Linked DNA regions of Homo sapiens. The protein of the gene in region 1 purifies or fractionates together with the protein of each later gene. This does not show direct contact. Each region holds a gene or a part of one and is shown in the gene's direction. Other genes may lie near its edges.

Region 1 (5,508 bases):
ATTGATGCATATGGAGAGAAATGTGATGAGAAAAACACTGGCAATTGCAGAATCTAGTCGGTACATATCTAGCGGGTATGTATCTGGATGTTAACAATTTCAACTTTTCTGTGTGTTTTAAAACTTCCCTATAAAACGTTGACAGGAATAAAATTATAGAAATTACAGTTTAAGAAAAATTAAATTGGCTGGGTGCGGTGGCTCATGCCTGTAATCCCAGCACTTTGGGAGGCTGAGGTGGGTGGATCACGAGATCAGATCGAGACAGCAGAGATGAATCATGTTACTCAACGTAGAAAGTTGCCATCAGTAAGTGAAACTGACAAAAGGATATCTTAAAAGACAAATGCTTCAAATTTAATATCTGTAAGGAAATACGGCTGGGTGCGGTGGCTCACACCTGTAATCCCAGCACTTTGGGAAGCCGAGGCGGGTGAATCACCTGAAGTCGGGAGTTCGAGACCAGCCTGACCAACATGGAGAAACCCCATCTCTACTAAAAGTACAAAATTAGCCAGGCGTGGTGGCGCATGCCTATAATCCTAGCTACTCAGGAGGTTGAGACAGGAGAACAGCTTGAACCCCGGAGGCAGAGGTGAGCCGAGATCATGCCATTGCACTCATGCCTGGGCAACAAGAGCAAGACTCCATCTCAAAAAAAAAAAAAATGCAGTTGATTATGGAGACTGATTAAGAAGTAAACTGCATGATATAAGGGGAACATATTAATCAAAAGTAGAATAATAAATTTCATTATATAAATGTTTTCGTTTTCTACAAGTTAATATATAAAGGACAATAGCATGGAATTAAAGGTGTTGTGTTTTTATTCAAGAATGATTTTTTTTTTAATTTTTGATGCAGAGTCTCCCTCTGTTGCCCAGGCTGGAGTGCAGTGGCATGATCTCGGCTCACTGTAACCTCCACTTCCCGGGTTCAAGGGGTTCTCATCCCTCAGCCTCCTGAGTAGCTGGGATTACAGGTGCCGAGCTACCACACCTGACCAAGAATATTTTCTTTTTTTTGAGATGGAGTCTCATTCTGTCGCCCAGGCTGGAATGCAGTGGCGCAATCTTGTCCTGTCTAACTACACTTTAGAACGCTTTCACCGTCTCCCCAAACCCCTGCCTCCCAGCCCCTGGTATCCTCCATTCTACTCTCTGCTTCCATGAGTTCAATTGTTTTACATTCCACATAAGTCAGATCACGTGGTAGTTGTCTTTTTGTGCCTGGCTCACTTCACTTAACATCATGTGCTCCATTAAGCTCCTGTGAATCCCAGTTTCTAACCTGCAATTGCTCTAAGTGTTTTCATTGCCTTTTCATGGTTTCTACTAAGAATTCCAGAGCCCAGCTGCAATGTTTTCACTGCTTTGGATGTTATTCATTGTTTTTCTTTACATCTTGTCCATGGACACACAAATAAATTGTCCGGTGCAAGTGCAGCGGCCGTATGCGCTTCCTGTGAAAGAAGGCCGGTTTGACATCTATTAAACAAATCCATCTCAGCATTCTTAACAGCCTTTATATTGTTTGATATCAAGCTCAGTCATTTAAAAAATATGCCTCTGTCTTTGTAAGATTACCTATGGGTTGGAGAAGACTTATGTAATATTCAACTCAGCAGATAATGTATATAAAAATTATTGCATATGATTTAATGATCTGGAATCAATTTTAACTGTTTATATGTCACACTTGGGAAAAAGCAGGACAATTATAAAATTTAATAATGGCATCTCCATAAAAAGCAATAATTCATATTCTACTTTAAAAATCCTTTCTCTTATGTAGAGGAGTAAGTGGCATCCTGGTGGCACCAGAAGGATGTACTGGTGAGCTTGTGTAGTGGTCACTAAGTTAACGCGTGTTGCTTTATTTGACTGATACTGATGTTGCCATCTTAGCTTCCGGCAGTTAGGTGGGCAGAAAACCCAAAGTTAGTAACTTTGGACAGTTGCAACAATGTTAGTAACTCAAGGGCCAAAGTGATGGATTAAACGGCCAGTCCAGGCAATCTCTGGTTCACCCTCATGATGACAGAGTGCTTTTAGGTAGTGAGGCAGTGCTTAGTCTCAAGGCAGCCTCCCTTCCCCTCATGCATTACCTGGTGTTTGTGGGCAGGAGTGTGGATCCTGTATACATGCCTGGGGTTGTGGGTGTGGGGAGGGGCCTCCAGTGTGCTGGGGTATACCCTGGGGCCTCTGTAAGTGCCTGATCCATAGATGCTCCCTGTGGCCTCGTCACAGGGGTCACCAGGCCCCTGGTGGCTTACAGTGTGGAAGTTGGAGGCTTCACCATAATCTGTGGCCTGAGCTTGGCCTCAGGGAATATTTCCAGGTGGTGTCAGCTGTATCTCCTCCTTACTCAGTGTCGTAGGGGAGCAGCGACTCTCTGGGACAGTGGGATGGGTGGTAAAAGAATTTACCAAGACAGTTGTAGGTAAAGAAAGGCAGATTCATTGGACACCACAGAGCTTACATGTTTGTGGTGATGTGGGTGTGAACATACGATTATCAACAGTGCATAATGCTTGATGAAAATAATAGATGCTGATGTTATTGTTTTATGTATTTAATATCCTATATTTTTTATTGTTATTTTAGAGTATATGCTTACTACTTTTTTTTAAGGTAACTGTGAAGCAGCCTCAGGCAGTTTCTTCAGGAGGTTTCCAGAAGAAGGCATTCTTATCAAGGAGATGACAGCTCCATGCCTGTTACTGCCCCTGAAGACCTTCCGGTGGGACAAGATGTGGAGGTAGAGGACAGTGAAATTGATGATCCTGACCCTGCTTAGCCTTAGGCGAAAGTGTCTGGTTGTGTCTTGTTTTTTAACAACAAACGGTTTAAAAGTAAAATAAATAAATAATGAAAAAAGCTCATAGAATAAGGTTAAAAAGAAACAAAATATTTTTGTATAGCTATATAATTTGTGTGGCTTTTTTGTTTATTTGTTTGAGACAGGGTCTCACTCTGTCACCCAGACTGGAGGGCAGTGGCACAATCACAGCTCACTGTGGTCTCAACCTCTTGAGCTCCAGAGATCCTCCCACCTCACTCAGGAGGACGTCAGTCCTCCAGGCAGACGTCAGTCCCCAGGTGGACCCTGGACTCAAAGTGTATACCAGGCCCCAAGTTGACAACCAGGCCCCAGATGGACACCAAGGCCCTAGGTGGACAGCAGGCCCATGTTGAACACCAGACTCATGAGGACATCAGGCCGCAGGTAGACATCATGCCTTAGGTAGATACGTAGGCTCCGGGTGGACATTAGACCCAAGGCTCCAGGTAGACATTAGACCCAAGTCCCCAGGTGATCATCAGGCCCAGGTGAAAACTCAGGCCTTAGGTGCACCTCTGGCCTCAGGTGGACACCCAGGCCCCAGGTGATCACCAGTCCCCAGGTGGACACAAGGCCTTAGGTGAACAACAAGACCCAGTAGGCCATCAGGCCCCAGCTGGATACAGTCCCCAGGTGAACACAAGGCCCCAAGAGGGACATAGGCCAAGGCAGACATCAGGCCCCAGGTGGACATCAGGCCTGAGGACGACATCTGGCCCCTGGTGAACATCAGGCACAGGTGTCCAAGCAGACCCTGGGTGGACATAACTGTGTACGGGTCAGGAGATGACCTGAGGGGAGGGTGAGTAGTCAGCAGCCCAGTGGAGTCCTGAGTAGGTCTTATGGAAGGAAGGGGACTAGGGGACAGAACCGTAAAGAAGCGACCTCACTTCCTGGATGATGACCACACGAACAGAACTTAGAACTCTGGTAACCAGGCACCCATATCCTAGAGTCAGCGCCGTAAACAGCTCACTTGGTGGGAGTCGCTCAAGAGAGCAAGATGTTCTCGTGTTGCTTCCCCACTTCGAGAGGTTGCTGCTTCAGGAATGGAGGGAGTGAGAGCCTTTTCCGACGATGCCGAAGAAGGCTCATCCCTCACCCCAGACGCCTGTCGCCCGTTGTAATAAGGCGCATCCAGGTACCACAGGACAGCCTGGGGCAGGCCCTAGCAGGCCAGGCCACACCAGAGATCCCATTGGGGCTGCAGCTGCACACTGTCCTTGTCCAGGAGATTCAGGAGCTCATTGAGGCACAGACACTTGGTGAGGTGGCCTGCAGCCTGGAAGACTTTGCGGGGGCGGTGATTTTGGGCTGGAATTCCCTTAAATTCAGTGAGGTCGTTTCTGTGTTTGGAAATTCCAGTGGAAAGTGACTGAGGCTGGTGACCCTTTCTCCTTTCTCAGCTCCTGGTCCATGTGCAGAAGTAAGAGCACTGCCAGCACCAGCGGCGGAGCCAGAGCCAGCATGGGAAGAGGCCCCTCCAGAGAGAGCACTGGAGCTGGAGGGAGCTCCAGCCAAGGACCAGACCAACGAGGAGCTGCCTGAAATCACGGCACGTACTGTAGCCACTAGCCCTAACCCTGGAACTGAAAGCGTGGCTGGAGAGAGAAGTGGGAGGGAGGGGGTGACCAGCACAGCCCCAGCCAGCAGCTCCCATGCTGCCCCTAGTCCTGGGCACGGTGGCAAACATGCAGGCAGAGAGCAGGGCATTTGGCCTGGCCTCCTGTACCTCGCTGGAGAGAGGCTTCTCTCATTCACTAGAACCACAGTCCTGCTGCTGCAGGTCCGTTTATTCTCCTGATCCTGGTTTATCTGTGTGCAGGAGGTGCCGGAGAGCATTAAAAGAAGGCTGGGAAGAAGAGTTCCAGCAGCTACGCCTGCTCCCAGAGGCAACCTCCTCCTCCAGGCATGGATGCGGGTCCACAGCTGGGCATCCAGGCTGTTTGCCCCTAATGTGCTGCCCGGGACAGGCCCTTAACAGGCGGGCAGTGGGTGAGGGGACCAGGAGGTGGCTCCAAAGGGTAAAGCAAACAAAGCTTTTAACGACAGCCGTTGTGCCCCAGGCTCTCCATGCCACCACCTGCCCTACCATTTATTAATAGTGTTAGAATTACAAGTTGATGAAACGAGATTACAATAAAGTTTGATTTCTGAAACTTCATGCCTTTTTGAACTCCCTAATGTTAGATGGTGTTTTTGAGGCTATCCTGAAAATCTCTGATAGTTGTGTCTTTTGTTGTGGTTGTTTGTGTGGCTGAATTACCATCGAGTCATCTGTTATTGGAAACCTTTCAGGTATGGCTTTTAGAAGACCTTGACCTACTCTTGACTGTTTTGACTCTCTGGTTTATTGTGGAAAGAGGGATGATGTAGGCTCATGTCTCCGGCAGATCAATCACCTTTTGCCATCAAGGATTTGGCATCAGAGTTTCCAAGAATTATGTGTGCAAGTTGATATGCTGCTACTTTAGCTAATCTGGGTGTCAAAACAGAATGCCATAGACTAGGTAGCGTAGAAAATTGATTTCTCACAGTTCTGGAGATGGTAAAATCCAAGGTCAAATTGTCAGCAGATTCCGTGGGGCTGACTTCCTGGTTCATAGACAGCCATCTTTTTTACTGTGTCTTTACATGACAGAAGGGATGAGGGAGCTCTCTGCA
Region 2 (7,790 bases), on another chromosome or scaffold:
TTTGGAAATCTTTTAGTACTTATTCTCTGAATCACATATTTTGCTATATATGTTTTTCTAGCTTACCCTGCCTGTCCAATGAAACTGTAAGCCCTTGGGGATGGGGATTTAGTATATGAATTTTAAGTGTCTCTAATATCTACTAAAGACACAGTAAGCCCTCAACAACAGGAATTACATTCTAAAGAGACATGCCTCTCTGCAACAGAGTGGTTCTTGATGATGCACTATAACTAGACCTAATAATGAACTCTGAGTTCCTCAGGAACACTCATTGGAGCATGAACAGTTTAAATTACAAGGTCAGCTCCAGGAAAGACAGAAGATAAAATGTGAAGAGCAATAGAGTAGCAATTTACATTTGTTCTCATCAGACTAAAAGAATATATTATAATATAGTGTCAAGTTAATGCTGGAGCTTTGGAAAGTAGAATGTTACAGACATATTTTGTTGCACCCATTTTAGGTTTCCAAGAAGTGTGCTGGAATTATGCAGGTTCCTCTCTTGGAATGAGCAACTGCTTAGCAAGACAAATGTCAGATTCTAGAACTTGACCCTAGGACACTTTTCCAATACAGTGATCAAGTGACCTAGTTCAAGGAAATGACAAATAAATGTCATGGATTTCTCATTCAGCTGTCACTCTATGGGTAGGAGAGCAAGTAGGAGGAAAAGGGGAATATTTAGAAGTTCTAAATGGGGCCTTTAAAATGCCAATGTGGAGACATAAGAAAACTGGTTCCCAACATAGTCTTCCCTTGACCAAATTTACTTTTTTCATTGCCCATCTGACAATGTTTCCCTGATTCCTATACCTTATTATCACTAAGCTTTATTTCTCCACATCTTGTTTTCTTCTATGATTTTATGTTCTTGCTTTTTATTTTATGCTCATTTCCTCCTTATAATCTCCTCTGTCTCCATCCCCAAAGTTTAAAAGATATGTCTTTTTAATTAAACATTTTTATTTCAATGCCCAAAGTGTAACTTGTAGTGAGAAAAAGACTCGGCTTGCACCCCAGGGGCCAGGGCAGCAGCAATTCTTTATAAGTGGTTGCCCTTTCAGGTTCCTGTCCTTAAAAATCTGTCTGCCCTGACCCAGTATTTCTATAGCATCATGCAGGAAGTACCTTTCTGGTGCATCTGGAACTCCCAGAAAAAAAGCACATTAAAGCTGGTAATTTTAATGCTTAATTTCATTATAATCTTAGATCCGTTCATAGATCATCCATGTACAAAATGTTTTTTTAATATGCAGCTTTCAGTTTGCCAGAGATTTTTTGTTTTTTAGCATCCACCGCTATGTGTGGCAGGCACTGGTCTACAGATACATATAGAAATTAACTGCATTCCCATTCTCTGCTCTTGTGGATCTCGTTGTACTAAGGATAAAATGAAATCTGGCACATAATCTTCCATGACTGTTCTGGTTTCCATTCCTCCACCCTTCCTGTGTGAAATGCCTCCCTTTTGGGAGGGGGCACGAGGAGTTGCCTACTATTTTATCCAGGCCTAAGGACCCATGAGATGGGCAACATTTGTAAAGCATCTGTGGAAAGCAGGAAACCATTCAGGCACATCAACTGCCCAGAGAGCTGAGAAGCTTGAAGCCCAGCAGGCCTGGCTTAAAGATCACGTGGCTGTTCTTGCTCTCCCGCTCAGAGTGGCATTCTCCCCTTGCTATACCCCAACTTGGAATGTCAACTTCAGGTTCTGGGAGGACAGAAGTTTGCCACTCTCCTTAAACGTCATCCACTACTTTGAACACTTATTGAGCAACTACCAACATCCAGACAATTTGAACATTCACTGAGCAACTACTTGGATATATGTAATTGTTAGATGCTTTACACACATTGTCTTATTTTTTACAAACCTGTGAACTAGATGTTTTTGTTGCCTCCATTTTAAGAATGAAGAAATCCAGACTCAAAGAGGTATAATACCTTGGTCAAGGCTGGTATGGGTCAATGTAGTGGCTGCAAACTGGATCTAAATTGACCGTGTTTAAGAAAAAAACAAACAAAACAAAAAAACCAAAAAACTAATACCTCACACTGCCCCTCTCCGCATGGTTGCCAAGCCGAGAAGGGGAACTGACAAGCACTTGTGGAACTGCATTCATTCACTCACTCATTCAACAAGTGTTTTCCTGGTACAAACGGTACCAGCTTAAGGGAGGCAGTTCCTGAATTCAGGGCCTATCACATAAAGTAGACACACAGCAATCTAATAATTCAAATGTTGAACCTCTTTTTCCATGCGTCTTTCTAATCATTAAAAAAAATCCATCATTTGTATTATTTTTATTTATTTATTTTTTTGAGATGGAGTCTCGCTCTGTCGCCCAGGCTGGAGTGCAGTGGCGTATCTCAGCTCACTGCAACCTCCGCCTCCCGGGTTCAGGCGATTCTTCTGCCTCAGCCTCCCAAGTAGCTGGGACTACAGGCGCCTGCTACCACGCCTGGCTAATTTTTGTATTTTTATTAGAAACAGAGGTTCACCATCTTGGCCAGGCTGGTCTTGAACTCTTGGCCTCGTGATCTGCCCGCCTCGGCCTCCCAGAGTGTTGGGATTACAGGCGTGAGCCACGGTGCCCGGCCAGTTATTCGTATTATCTTTAATAGGCATTGAATTAGCTTTCTTTTAACTGAATACATTCAACATTAATCCCAGAGGTAGCATTGAGTTCAGCTGACACAATGTTTCAGAATCCAAGCCTTCTGCATCCTACTTTCAACCATTATTTTTTAAACCAGTGTATAAAAATAGTTGTTCTTTGCTCCAATAAAGACATTGGAAAATCCAAATTCATAAACTAGACAGGGTATGAGGGAGTATTAATTAGCATGGCAAACACCCTCCCTTTACAAAATAATCCACTGTCTCTTAAAAAGGCTAACAATGAACGAATGCTGGTATTAGTAAAGAAATCACTGGGCAAAGAAACAAAGAGCGAGAAAGCCACGTGAAGTCCCTGGAATTACAATAGAGATAAGCAGAACGATGGGCCTTGATTTACAACATTGGGACTTAAAGACAACTTTTTGGAACAAGCCACTGGGCACGGCCAGGAAAGGAACCTCCCAGTTGTAATCCATGCTGTTGTAAGACTGTGTGCAAAGAATGCAGGGGTGGAGGGAGAATTGGGATCTACCTGGGTTTCTAAATTTTCCCGGGTTTAATTTACTCGTGCATTCTGCTATGTAAAAGAAAACATATTTTCGACTAAAATCTCCTATCTTATCAACGCCAAGTTTTCCTGCTTCCTATTAAGCAACAAGGTTACAGCAAGTGTAACAAACTGAATGTACTTATTGATGATCTTTCCTGCTCCAGCCAATCCATCCTATCACCTTCAGCCTGGCTCCTACCCTGGTCTTCAGTTTACACTTGTGCCTCGTCCCTTATCAGCTCCCCATGAGATTCCAGGCTGCTATTTTAATACTCTGTTACTATCTTAAATCGGGTCGCACCCGTTCTTCTTGTCGGTGAGTGAGGGGCTGCGCTCCAAGTTGCGCGACCACACTGCGGGGAGTAAACGGAGACGGTGACTTGATTGCCACCCGCGCGCTTCACATCGGTGGGGCCGACCAGGCGCCCAGGGCGCACGCACAGCGCCCCTAAGTGGCCGCTCCGGGCGCCTTCTCCCTGCCCCGCCGCGTCTCGCCTGCGCGGGCTCCAAGCGCAGCCTTAACAGGCTCCGAAACTTGAATCAGCGCCCCGATCCCGAGAGGGCTCTTCCTTCGGCCCCATCACTCCCACAATGGAAGGGCGGCCGCCTCCGGAAGGCCGTCCGCCCCCGCGTCCTCGCACCGGCCGAGCCCCGCGCGGGCGCCGAAGAGGTGTGGGTAGCCGGGCGCCAGAGGGGTCGGGCCCCGCCTGCGCCGGAAGTCCGCGCGTGCGCGCTGGCCGGCCTGGAGCGCGCGTCCGGCGCAGAGGGGCGGCGGGGGCGGGGCCGCGGCCGCTCGCAGGGTGTCCCCGCCCCCGCCCCCCGGCGTTCCGCGGTCGCCGTGACAACCGGAGCGGCGGCAACGGCGGCGGGCTAGCAAGTCCGGCGCCGCCTCCCGGCGGTACTGCCAGCCAGGCAGCAGCCGCCCGGCCTCCACGATCTCCCCGCCTCCCGGCCCGCGGGGAGGGACGAGCCCGCCCTCCACCCTCCGCCCGCCCGCCCGCTGGAGAGTGAGCTGCGCCCAGCCGCCCAGCCAGCCCGCCGTTCTCTGGCCGCCGTCCGGGCGCGCGCAGCGAGCGGGCGCGACTATGCCAAGATGGTCCTGCAGGCGCGGAACAAGCACCGGGAGGCGGCTCCCAAGCCGCCCCAGCCACCCCGCGCCTCACAGTCGCCGCTGAGGGGGGCGTCGGACGTCGGCGCCGGGGAGCCGGGGCCCGAGCGCGCGCCCCTGTCCCCGGGGCGCAAGGGCGCCGCGGGCAGGAAGGGGCCCCGCGCCGAGCCCGGCGCGCCGCCCGCCGGGGGCGGCCTTGGGGGGCGCCTGGCCGCCCGGCTGCGCTGGGCGCTGGGCCTGCGGCGCGCGGGGCGCGGCCGGACCTGGACCACGCTCCTGTTAGGTGAGCAGCCCTAGCGCCGGCGCCGCCGGGACGCGGAACTTTGAGGCGCTGGCCCCCTCCCCTCCCCTCCCCTCCCCTTCCTTCCCCTCTCCTCCCGCTTCCGCCGCGCCGAGCCCCGCCAGCCGGACCAGCCAGTTTGCAGCCCTCTCCGACTTTTTCTCTGGGACATTCTTACCTTCTCCTCCCCGCAACTCCCTGGCTCAGCTCTCCTCGCACGCTTCCCACCCGCGCTCTGCCTGGGCTTTAAAAGAATGGCCCGGGGATCAACAGCTGCCCGGCCTGGCCGCGGGCAGCAGGTCTGCGCTAACGAGACTTGAGCGCTGCTGATTGGTACGACTGGCCGCCTTCCCGTTATCTCGGCCTCTGACCGCCAGGATGGTTTGCTTTGGCTTGGAAACGATTCCGTGGAGCTCAAAGCAAACGCACGTTCCATGTCGTAGAGAGTTGCTTAAACTTATAATTAAATTTTAGCGTACTTTTTTCTTCCTGGCCGCAAACGCCGCTGGTGGCACTTTATTTGTGATTCCCCTCGACACGTCACTTTCTAGGTTGTGTTGTGTTTGGGGCGCCCGAGCCTTAATCCTCCCTGCTGCCCTTGGAACCTTTGGTGAGGAGGGCTCTCCTCCCCTCCCTCTGCCATTTACCAAATGGATGATGTGTAATGATGTGCTGAAAAAAAAAAACAAAGTTGACGCATTCGTATGTTTCGGACTGACTTCAGGTTTCCTCTGTTTCCTGGTTGAATTTTGATAAGGCAAGTTGTAGCAGTTTGGATAACAGGCCTAATTTTTCTAAGTCAACTAGTGAAATGCTGTTACATTGCTTTTTTCTATATGCCTCAGTGGGCTTTTCGCTACTGAACTATTTAATTACTGTTGATTTATCCCTTAGTATATTTTCAGATTCCCTTGGTGACTCAAAGTTCCCTTAGCCAGGAGTTGGGGTCCAGTATAAGTCAAGGAATAGGACACAGCAAATTGGCTTCCCCTGAGATCACAGCCACAAATAAAAGCCACTCAGTCATAAAAAGCCAGTCATCTCTGTATGTTTTAATGGGCTCAAGAAGGTTGTTCCTAGGGTACTTTTTTTCCCCCCATTGCCGATTCAAGCCTAGAAAAACCAAGTTTGTTTTTCTTTGTTTGTTTGTTTGTCTGTTTCCAGCACATTTCCCCCCGCCCCCTTTTTTTTTATCTCAGTAGCAAGCTTGAAAAGCTGGCTAGTATGCAGGTTAGAAAAGCTCACCTTGGGGAGGCAGCACGATACAGTGGATGAGGCAGAGCCTTCAGATCTAGTACACAGCGGTTCAGTTTGGTTTAAGTTTCAGGTTCCTTTGTGAGTCTTTCGTTCTCTGCTAGTGGGGGGTTATCACATGGCGAATTTACTCCACAGGGATCCACAGGATCTGTTAAGGATCATAACTAAAAGGTGTGGGTGATACATGGGAAGATACTTTGTGTTTAGAGCACTTGACACATTGTAGTTGTTGTAATAAAAGAAAGTGTGTGATGCTGATTTGAGATCTGATGACAGAATGGAGTTGCATTTTTATTGAATGACTAAACATTAACCACTTTGTAGTAAAATATAGAATGGCATTGCTTCTTCAGGGATGTTACAATAACAAATCTTAGAATAATGATATTTATTGCTATTTTCTGCATATTTTCTTTTTTGATTGCGTTTCCTTTGAATCTTCTTTGGATGGATGCATGACTTATATTTGGATGACTTACCTTTGGATTTAGTAATTCCCATACCTAAATACAGTTTTGTATTAATGTAACAGTATAGCACGTTGCTTGACTTGCCCCTTTGAGCATTGAAAGGAGGTACAGTGAATGTGGTAGATTGTATTTTTGGGTGTACCCTGGACCATGGCCATCAGATATATGGAAGTTGGATGAACAGACCCAGGTCTAGAGACTTTCTGTCCTTGTTAACCCTCTGCATGAGGCCCCAGGGCACCTTGAGAGATGATTCTGCTGAATGATTGGACCTGGGTTGCTTCTTTCTCTGGCTCTGTACCGTCATAAACTGATGTCAGACCTATTTCTTCCCCACGATTATGCCCTGCCACAGCGTCAAAAAACCACTCAGATCCTGCAGAGAGGAGCAGAGTTTAGACATTTTTGAAAGCTGCCTTATTTCCTGTTTTCTTCCCCCCTCCCAGAATGAGTGAGAGTTGAGCTGACATTATACAGTATTTCAATGTGGGACTTTAAAATAGCTGTTTGGTTTTCCACATTGCATTGCATATTCTTTTGTTCATCAAGAGTTCATTTGTAACTGATCAAAAAAAGAACAATTATAACAACTAAATATTAAGCTAGACAGAAATGGATTCATTTCTATTTAGAAAGTAATTTTGTAACTTAAAGCTCCGTGATAGAAACACACATTTTCAAGAGTTAGAAACTGTCTGGGGCTTTCCTCCATAGGTTCTAATCACTGATGAGGAACTCACTGCCTTCCAACATGGTCTTTCCACTGTTGGGCAGGGTTAAGCATTGTTGAAAAGTCTCTTTTCATAAATATATGTTTTTCTTATTGTGGGGCATTATTTGCTACTTATTTAGTGCTAATATTTGTAAAGAGGGGTTCTTGACATGTTTATTTTTAGAAGTTTCAACCTGATAGCTTCCTCATGCAGAGGTGGCTGTGACATAGTAAGAACCTTGACAATGTTTCCCAAACTTTTTTGACCACAGCTGACATTGTAACAATACATTTTATATTAAACCTGTTCACACTTCCACAATGCAACTCAGTACATATATGCATAAGTCTATATGTCTGTTGGTCTATTTATGTATGCCAGTGCTCCGTCATGGAAACAATTGTGGTAGTAAAAGATACACCCATTAGACATGCAAACAAAGCATGTCTGTGGTGAAAGACTAACATGAGATACTATATACACAACAATAAAACAAGAACCTGAGTATGGGAAAAGTGGATGATAAAAACTACCTTTTCCCCCCTTTGCATTAATCCTGTTTGACTCATTCCCATTGCCCACCTGGTTCCTGTGGTCAATGGCAAGGGTACACCTGCTATAACCTGGTTCCTTATTGACAAGGCTTTGCAACCTCAGCATTGTGGCATTTTGGGTGGGATAATTTTTTTGTTGAGGGGGCTTTCCTGTGCACTGCAGGATTTTAGCAGCATCCTTGGCCTCCACCTACTAGATGCCACTGGTATCTCCCCAGTAGTGACAACGAAA
Region 3 (7,080 bases), on another chromosome or scaffold:
TTTATGTGTGGACACAGCATCATTAACACTTGGTCAAACAGCCAACGATCCCTGCCCTCACAGAGGTCACTTCCTGGGGCAAAGGCAGGGTCCAGAAGACACTGTCCCCAGCGTCTCAGATAGGGACAAATGCCAAAGAGGAAGCAGAGGTACGGAAGGGGGGCGGAGAAAGGGTGCTGCTGCTCTCAGGGGGCGCAGGGAGCTGAAGACCTGAAGGAGGTGGAGGATGCAGCGGCCCATGCCCGTCAGAGGGGACAGTAGGTGCAAAGGCCCTGAGGCCAGAGAATCCTGGGCCGGCAGAATTGCAAGACGCATCCATGGGGCCGGAGTGGAGCCAGGAGGGGAAGCCAAGGAGGCGAATGCCTGAGGGGTCGGGCTGACTTCGGGGGGCTCTGGCTTTTACCGTGTGGGGTGGAAGTCGCTGGACGGTTAGGAGCAGGGGGCATATGATGTGGCTTCCCGGGCAGCTGTGTGGAGAAGGAACAGAGGGGTAAGGCGGGGACAGGGGACAGGCCAGGAGGCAACCGAGGAAACTGGTGAACGCGACAGTGACGGGCCAGCACACAGGCAGTGGGTGGCAGCTGGGATGTGGGGTGTGAGAGGACATGGAGGCAAGGATCCATGATCCAAAGGGGCCTTTGACACGGAACTGCAGCCTCTCCAGCTCAGACCCTGTGCTGCCATGAAAGGAACAGGGTGGCAGGCCCAGGGCAGTCTCCCGGCTTGGAGGGAAGGACTCCAGCCTCAGGGAGTCCGCTGTACTCCGCCTCACCCCTGTACCCCTGCTCTGTCCCTTCCACAGATCATTCTCAACTCTATGCACCGCTACCAGCCCCGTTTCCACGTGGTCTTCGTGGACCCACGCAAGGACAGTGAGCGCTATGCCCAGGAGAACTTCAAGTCCTTCATCTTCACAGAGACCCAGTTCACAGCAGTGACAGCCTATCAGAACCACAGGGTGGGTGAACCAGCTCGGGAGCACCCGCTGCAGGCCCATTTCACAGGGGTGGAGACTGAGCCCTGAGGCTTGCAGCCCTCACTGGCACAGACTACTGCCCTCCCAACTTGCCCTGAGTATCTGCCATCAGTCAAGGCCCTGCCCGCACTCCTATCAGCTCAGAGTTCCTGGGCCAAGAGGCCCAGGTGCCAGGGCCTCCTGACTGCCGGTTCCCGGGAGGACAAGGTGGCTGAGCCTGGCTCATGGCCAGCCCACAACTGCACTTTGTCTCCTGCAGATCACCCAGCTGAAAATCGCCAGCAACCCTTTTGCCAAAGGCTTTAGAGAGAGTGACCTGGACTCCTGGTACTGTCTGACCCTGACCCTAGCCCCTCACCCCCACCCCAGGCATATCCTAAGGCCTCAGTTCCTGACCCTTGTTTCAGGGTCACACCCTCTGACCCATCCTGGGGCCCCACCATCTGAAGCTGGCCATGATCCCTGGCCTGGGTTCTTCCCCTTGATCCCCTCCCCCCATTCTCGCTTGCTCTTTCAGGCCTGTGGCCCCACGGCCCCTGCTCAGTGTCCCAGCCCGGAGTCACAGCAGCCTCAGTCCCTGTGTGCTGAAGGGTGCCACAGACAGGGAGAAAGGTAAGGCCCCAGGCCTGCAGACATAGTGGGACTAAGGTGTACACAGTGGGCGGAAGGCAAAGGGACAGGACCTCCAGGAAGGGGCTTCAGCAGCTCAGCGAACCCACAGGGCCCCTGTGTGGACACACGGAGGGGGAAGCAGACATGCCTAAGACAATATGGGGCTCAGGGCAAAGAGCACAGGCAGGGGGTGCCAGGCAGGCTTCCTGCAGGAGGTGGCTCTCAAGCTGGGCCTTGGAGGACTGGGAAGGGTTTGGACAGAGGGAGAAGGTGAAGAAGAAATTCCAGGCAGAGGGAAAAGCAAAGGCGAAGGCTGAGAGGTAGGTAACTTGGGAAGGAGGAGCAGGAAGGGACCAGGGCAGGCCTGGGATGAGGGATGAGGATGCGATGGGAGGCCCAGAGTCCACTCATTTCCTCCCTCAGACCCCAACAAAGCTTCAGCTTCCACCTCCAAGACCCCTGCTTGGCTCCATCATCAGCTGCTGCCCCCACCTGAGGTCCTGCTGGCCCCGGCCACCTACAGGCCTGTCACGTATCAGAGCCTGTACTCTGGAGCCCCGAGCCACCTAGGGATCCCAAGGACCCGACCAGCACCATACCCCCTCCCCAACATCCGGGCTGATAGGGATCAAGGAGGCCTGCCTCTCCCAGCTGGGCTGGGGCTCCTGTCCCCCACTGTGGTGTGCCTGGGGCCTGGCCAGGACTCCCAGTGATGCCAGAAGCCCTGGGGGGAAGCCCTGCTACCCTGGACCTTACACCGGGTGTGGGAATCAGCCTCTGCCCCGCCCCCTCCAGCCCCATCTCTGTCTCAAGGAGAGCAGGGTAGGTGAAAGTCTAGAGAAAGAGGCTACCTGCCCAGGGTCACAGCAAGGCTGGGACCATGGCAAGCTTGGAACCAGGACTTCTATCTCCCAACCCCAGCAGCCTGAATACTGTGCCCTCTTGCTTTGGGGGTAACTCCCGAAAACCCTGCCTTACCTCTCCCTTCCCCCTAACATTAAACTATTTGGCATGAGTGGTCAGAGCACTTCTGTCGTCGTGGTCAGGGTGGGTGGGGGCCTCAGGAACTCCCAGACCCATCATAGTCCCCACATCAGCCCTGTAGGCATCCCGAAGCTCTGCCCAGTGCCGTCCGCATCCCTGGGAGCACACAGTAATATTAAAAGTGGTGACTCCAGCCCAGTGGCAGGGCTGCACTTGCCCAGATGAGGATCGAAACTGGCGCTCAGAGAGGCGCGGGACCTGCTCAACGTCACACAGCAGAGCATGGCGGACACCCGCCACCCCACGTTTAAATGCTGTGCGCAAGGCTGGGGTCATCTGGTCCCCAAGCCCAGGGTCTGGTGGAAGGGCGCAGAACCACGGTGGTCAGTGACCACAGGGGCCGAGGTAGGAAAGGGGGAGGGATTTGGGAATCCGGTCAAGACTCAAGGCAGGAAGGGAGAAGAGCTCTGGACGCTGGGACAAGGAGGTCAAAGGCCTGGGGCTGGAGTCCGACGGAGCCAGAGGGGAAGACAAGACTGGGGGCGGCGCGCGCCACCCAGCGGTATCGGGAGGGAGGACCGGAGGGAGGGCTGGGCCGGACGCTCCTCTCGCGCACCGATCGACCTCGGGTTCCTGGAGGGGCGTCCCCGTGGGATCCCGGCTCCGTACATCCTGGAGCCCCTAGGGGAGGGACGGACCAGTGGGGGCCGGCGGGGCCTCATCAGACACCCCAACGCCAGGACCCAACGGGACCGAGGACGGTCGCCGGGCGCTTCACGGTTCGCGTGGTTTCAGGATCTCGGAGAACACAACCGGCAGGTCCTGCAGCTCCGCGCCCATCTCCCTCCCCGCGGCCACACCCCCGGCCACGGCCCGGCCCTGCCGGAAGCACAGTCCTCCTGGCCACGCCCCCCAGTCCTTCGTAGCAAAAGCTCCGGTCCAGGCCCCGCCCCCAGCCCGCCCCAACCTCGATTGCCTACTAGGCCCCGCCGCCCTTTGGCAGTAACGTCCGAGTCCGGCTCCCGCGCAGGCCCCGCCCCGCCCCGCCCCGCCGCCCTCCGTCCCTCCCATCCGGGGGACTCAACGCGTCCCACCGAGGCCCCGCCTTCAAACAGGCCCCGCCCCCTAACGGACCCCGTCCCACCGAGGACCCGCCTTCAAACAGGCCCCGCCCCCGAACAGACCCAGTCCCACCGAGGCCCCGTCTCCGGGAAGGCCCCGCCCACGAACAGACCCACCCCACTGAGGCCCCCCGACGCCGCTGCCGCTCTGCAGCCCCCCAGGCGGGACGCGTCGCGCGGGCTGCCCCTTCTCCCTCTCAGCTTTCGGAGGGACCCGGGCTGAGCGCCCCGCCCCGCCTCGCCCCGCCTCTTCCCTCGCCCGATCCCGCGCCCTCAGTGTCCCGGCCGCGCAGGACTTGACATGCTGCCCGACTGCCTGTCGGCCGAGGGCGAGCTGCGCTGCCGCCGGCTGCTGGCAGGGGCCACGGCCCGGCTCCGCGCGCGGCCCGCGTCGGCCGCGGTGCTCGTGCCGCTCTGCTCAGTGCGTGGGGTCCCGGCGCTGCTGTACACGCTGCGGTCCAGCCGCCTGACCGGGAGGCACAAGGGCGACGTCAGGTACAGCGGCCGGGAACTCCTCGCCCTTTGCCGGAGGCTACAGGAGCCCGGGGCTGGCAGGGACCTCTGGCAGGGCACTTAGCCCCTTCGAGCCTCGGTTTCCGCCTCCGTAAAATGGGTCTGGGGAGAGTCCCTCCGCCCAAGGGCTGCAGCGAGAGGTCAGCGATCCGTGTCCGTCGGCCCCGGTGCACCTGCCGGGGCGCCACGTCCTCGCCGCGTGGGCCCCTCGTACGCGTCCTTGCGCGCACGCCTGGGCCGGGACACCCCTTTGAGCTGTTTCCCGCTTAGAGGGCGGACGCCGCCCCCTGCCGGCGACTACGGAGAGGTTCGGGCCCCGCCCGGCGGGAATTAAGAACATCCTGAGGACAATGTCAGTGTTGCTGGGGCCACCATAGGCCGAATTTGGGTATCTGAGCCCCAGGATCTTCTTGCCCCTGCTGCAGACCCTCTTATCCTGCGCTGTCCCGGGCCTCTCTTCCTTATCCCCATTGCTCAGGGAGGTAAACTGGCCTCCAGAGGTCGCATGGCTTGCCTGGGGCCTCCCAGTAAACTAGGGGCAGAGGCAGGCGACACTTCGGTGGGCCAGTGGCCCCCCCCGCACTGCCGATACCCCGACCTCTCCGTGGCCCCAAGAGTCCAAGGACCAGACTCCTTGTGTCTGTTTAGTTTCCCAGGCGGCAAGTGCGACCCGGCTGACCAAGATGTGGTGCACACGGCCCTGCGGGAAACCCGGGAGGAGCTGGGCCTGGCAGTGCCCGAGGAGCACGTGTGGGGCCTGCTGCGGCCTGTGTATGATCCGGTAAGCCACTTGGCTGAGGCCACCCCACCCCATTCACTCACTCTGTGCCTGCCCTGGAGCTGGGCTACCAGGGACCAGGAGAGTGGTCATGGACCCCCACGGGCACAAAGTGTGGAAGGGTGCCCCTAACCTGCCTGGTCACATGCACCACCCCACACACCCCCTCGGGAAGGGATTGGGGAGGCTCTGGTGTCCTGAGTAGAGGTGGCCCAGGGCGATGGGGTGGGCCAGCTCCACTCAGTTTGGTGGATTAGGGTCAGGGAAGCTTCATGGGGTAGGCAGGGATTGAACCCAGGCTTGAATGCCAAGTGGGAGATTGTCCTAAGCAGAGGGAACAGGTCTAGTGCATTTGAGGGGACCTGAGTCAGTCAGCATGGCTGGAGGACACAGGCAGGTGGACCCGAACATGACTACCAAAGGCCTATGCATGGCAAAGGGGTCTTCCTCTCACACTCCCCTCCCCAGCCTTCAAACCCAGCGAAGGCCATGCTTCCCTGACCACCTGCCCTCTTCCCCAGCAAAAGGCCACCGTGGTGCCAGTGCTTGCTGGTGTAGGCCCACTGGATCCCCAGAGCCTCAGGCCCAACTCGGAGGAGGTGAGCTGGGGGATATGAGGGGGTTGGGCTGTTCCAGTCCTCTGTCTACCCTCTCTGCCTCCTGCCTGCAGGTAGATGAGGTGTTTGCACTGCCGCTGGCCCACCTGCTGCAGACGCAGAATCAGGGCTATACCCACTTCTGCCGGGGTGGCCACTTCCGCTACACACTACCCGTCTTCCTGCATGGACCACACCGGGTCTGGGGCCTCACAGCTGTCATCACTGAGTTTGCCCTGCAGCTGCTGGCACCTGGTACCTACCAGCCCCGCCTGGCCGGCCTGACCTGCTCAGGGGCTGAGGGTCTGGCCCGCCCTAAGCAGCCCCTGGCTTCACCCTGTCAGGCCAGCTCCACTCCAGGACTGAATAAAGGTCTTTGACAGCTCTAGAGCTCTTGCTTCTGCTGTACTGGGGCCTTGACCTTGGGCAGACCACTCCAGGTCGCTGGCTGGGGCTCCTCCTTCCAGTCACGCCATGCCCCACAGCAATGGACACTTCCTGGGTGCCAAGTACTTGGAGTCAATTCATCTCACCCTCACAACAGCCCATAAGGCAGGGCCAACACTGTCTCTGGCTGGTGAGACTGCTTTCAGGGAGGAGAGACACCTTGCCTAAGGGCCCCACGCTGGGATTGGAACCAGAGCTCTCAGACTCCACAGCCCAGACTCTTAGGCACTGCACTGCCCTGTCTCAGCCTGCACCTCCTGTTCTCTCTGCTGTGCCTGGCTGACGCTGTGCTGGGCTCCGGGATCCCAGAGAGGAGTAAGGCGCACCCATGCCCCTGGGTGTTACTGCAGGAGTCTAACATGCAGAGCCCCTGTGTGTGCCAGCTGCTGTGTGGGGGCCACAGCTGTGGACCGGTCAGATGCTCACCTGCCGTCCAGAGGGGGTGCTCAGTCTAGGGGAGACCTCAGACCAGGTCACACAGATAATCATGTGGTTCCACATTAATTAATCACAGATAATAGTGGAATTATATAAGACATCAACTAGGTAGACCAGGGTTCTGTGAAAGAGCTGAGGGAGCGGGTGGTCTGAGCTTGCCGTGGAGGATGGCTGGATCCAGGGGCTCGGGCTCCCCTCTTGCTGTGCTTTGCGCTGTGCTGGCCTCAGCCCCAAGGAGGTTGTCTGTAGTGCAGAGCGTGAGAGGTTGAGGAGAGGGCAGCAGCATCCATCAACAGAAAACACGGCCGCTCCTTCCCGGCCAGTCTAACCTAGAATTGCACTTCACTGGCCTGCCTTGAGTCACATGTCCTTCCCTGAGCCTGTCACATGGCCGGTTGTGTGTCCGGAATTGGTGGGTTCTTGGTCTCACTGACTTCAAGAATGAAGCCATGGACCCTCACAGTGAGTGTTACAGCTCTTAAGGTGGTGCGTCTGGAGTTTGTTTCTTCTGATGTTCGGATGTGTTTGGAGTTTCTTCCTTCTGGTGAGTTCGTGGTCTCGCTGGCTCAGGAGTGAAGCTACAGACCTTTGTGGTGAGTGTTACAGCTCATAAAA

What was found. Proteins that work in one complex are often made in the same cells at the same time.
Region 2: the proteins of CDRT15 (region 1) and DPY19L1 purify together in Homo sapiens (affinity purification with mass spectrometry; 3 studies listed by BioGRID and IntAct, with this or other methods). This does not show direct contact.
Region 3: the proteins of CDRT15 (region 1) and NUDT8 purify together in Homo sapiens (affinity purification with mass spectrometry; 3 studies listed by BioGRID and IntAct, with this or other methods). This does not show direct contact.

What each region holds. Positions count from the first base shown.
Region 1 is NC_000017.11:14,235,173-14,240,680, reverse strand, and holds CDRT15 (CMT1A duplicated region transcript 15 protein), read left to right. Parts: upstream 1-3,818; 5' UTR 3,819-3,847; coding exon 3,848-4,109; intron 4,110-4,250; coding exon 4,251-4,399; intron 4,400-4,669; coding exon 4,670-4,825; 3' UTR 4,826-5,008; downstream 5,009-5,508.
Region 2 is NC_000007.14:35,033,874-35,041,663, reverse strand, and holds the start of DPY19L1 (protein C-mannosyl-transferase DPY19L1), read left to right. Parts: upstream 1-4,178; 5' UTR 4,179-4,269; coding exon 4,270-4,567; intron 4,568-4,742; exon of another isoform or gene 4,743-4,878; intron 4,879-7,790. UniProt on the Homo sapiens protein: C-mannosyltransferase that mediates the C-mannosylation tryptophan residues on target proteins.
Region 3 is NC_000011.10:67,626,826-67,633,905, reverse strand, and holds NUDT8 (mitochondrial coenzyme A diphosphatase NUDT8), read left to right. Parts: upstream 1-3,968; 5' UTR 3,969-3,994; coding exon 3,995-4,188; intron 4,189-4,854; coding exon 4,855-4,987; intron 4,988-5,505; coding exon 5,506-5,583; coding exon of another isoform or gene 5,584-5,601; exon of another isoform or gene 5,602-5,654; coding exon 5,655-5,960; 3' UTR 5,961-5,968; downstream 5,969-7,080. Other genes in the region: T-box transcription factor TBX10, read left to right, coding at 803-958, 1,236-1,303, 1,494-1,588, 2,012-2,301. UniProt on the Homo sapiens protein: Acyl-CoA diphosphatase that mediates the hydrolysis of a wide range of CoA and CoA esters yielding 3',5'-ADP and the corresponding 4'-phosphopantetheine derivative as products.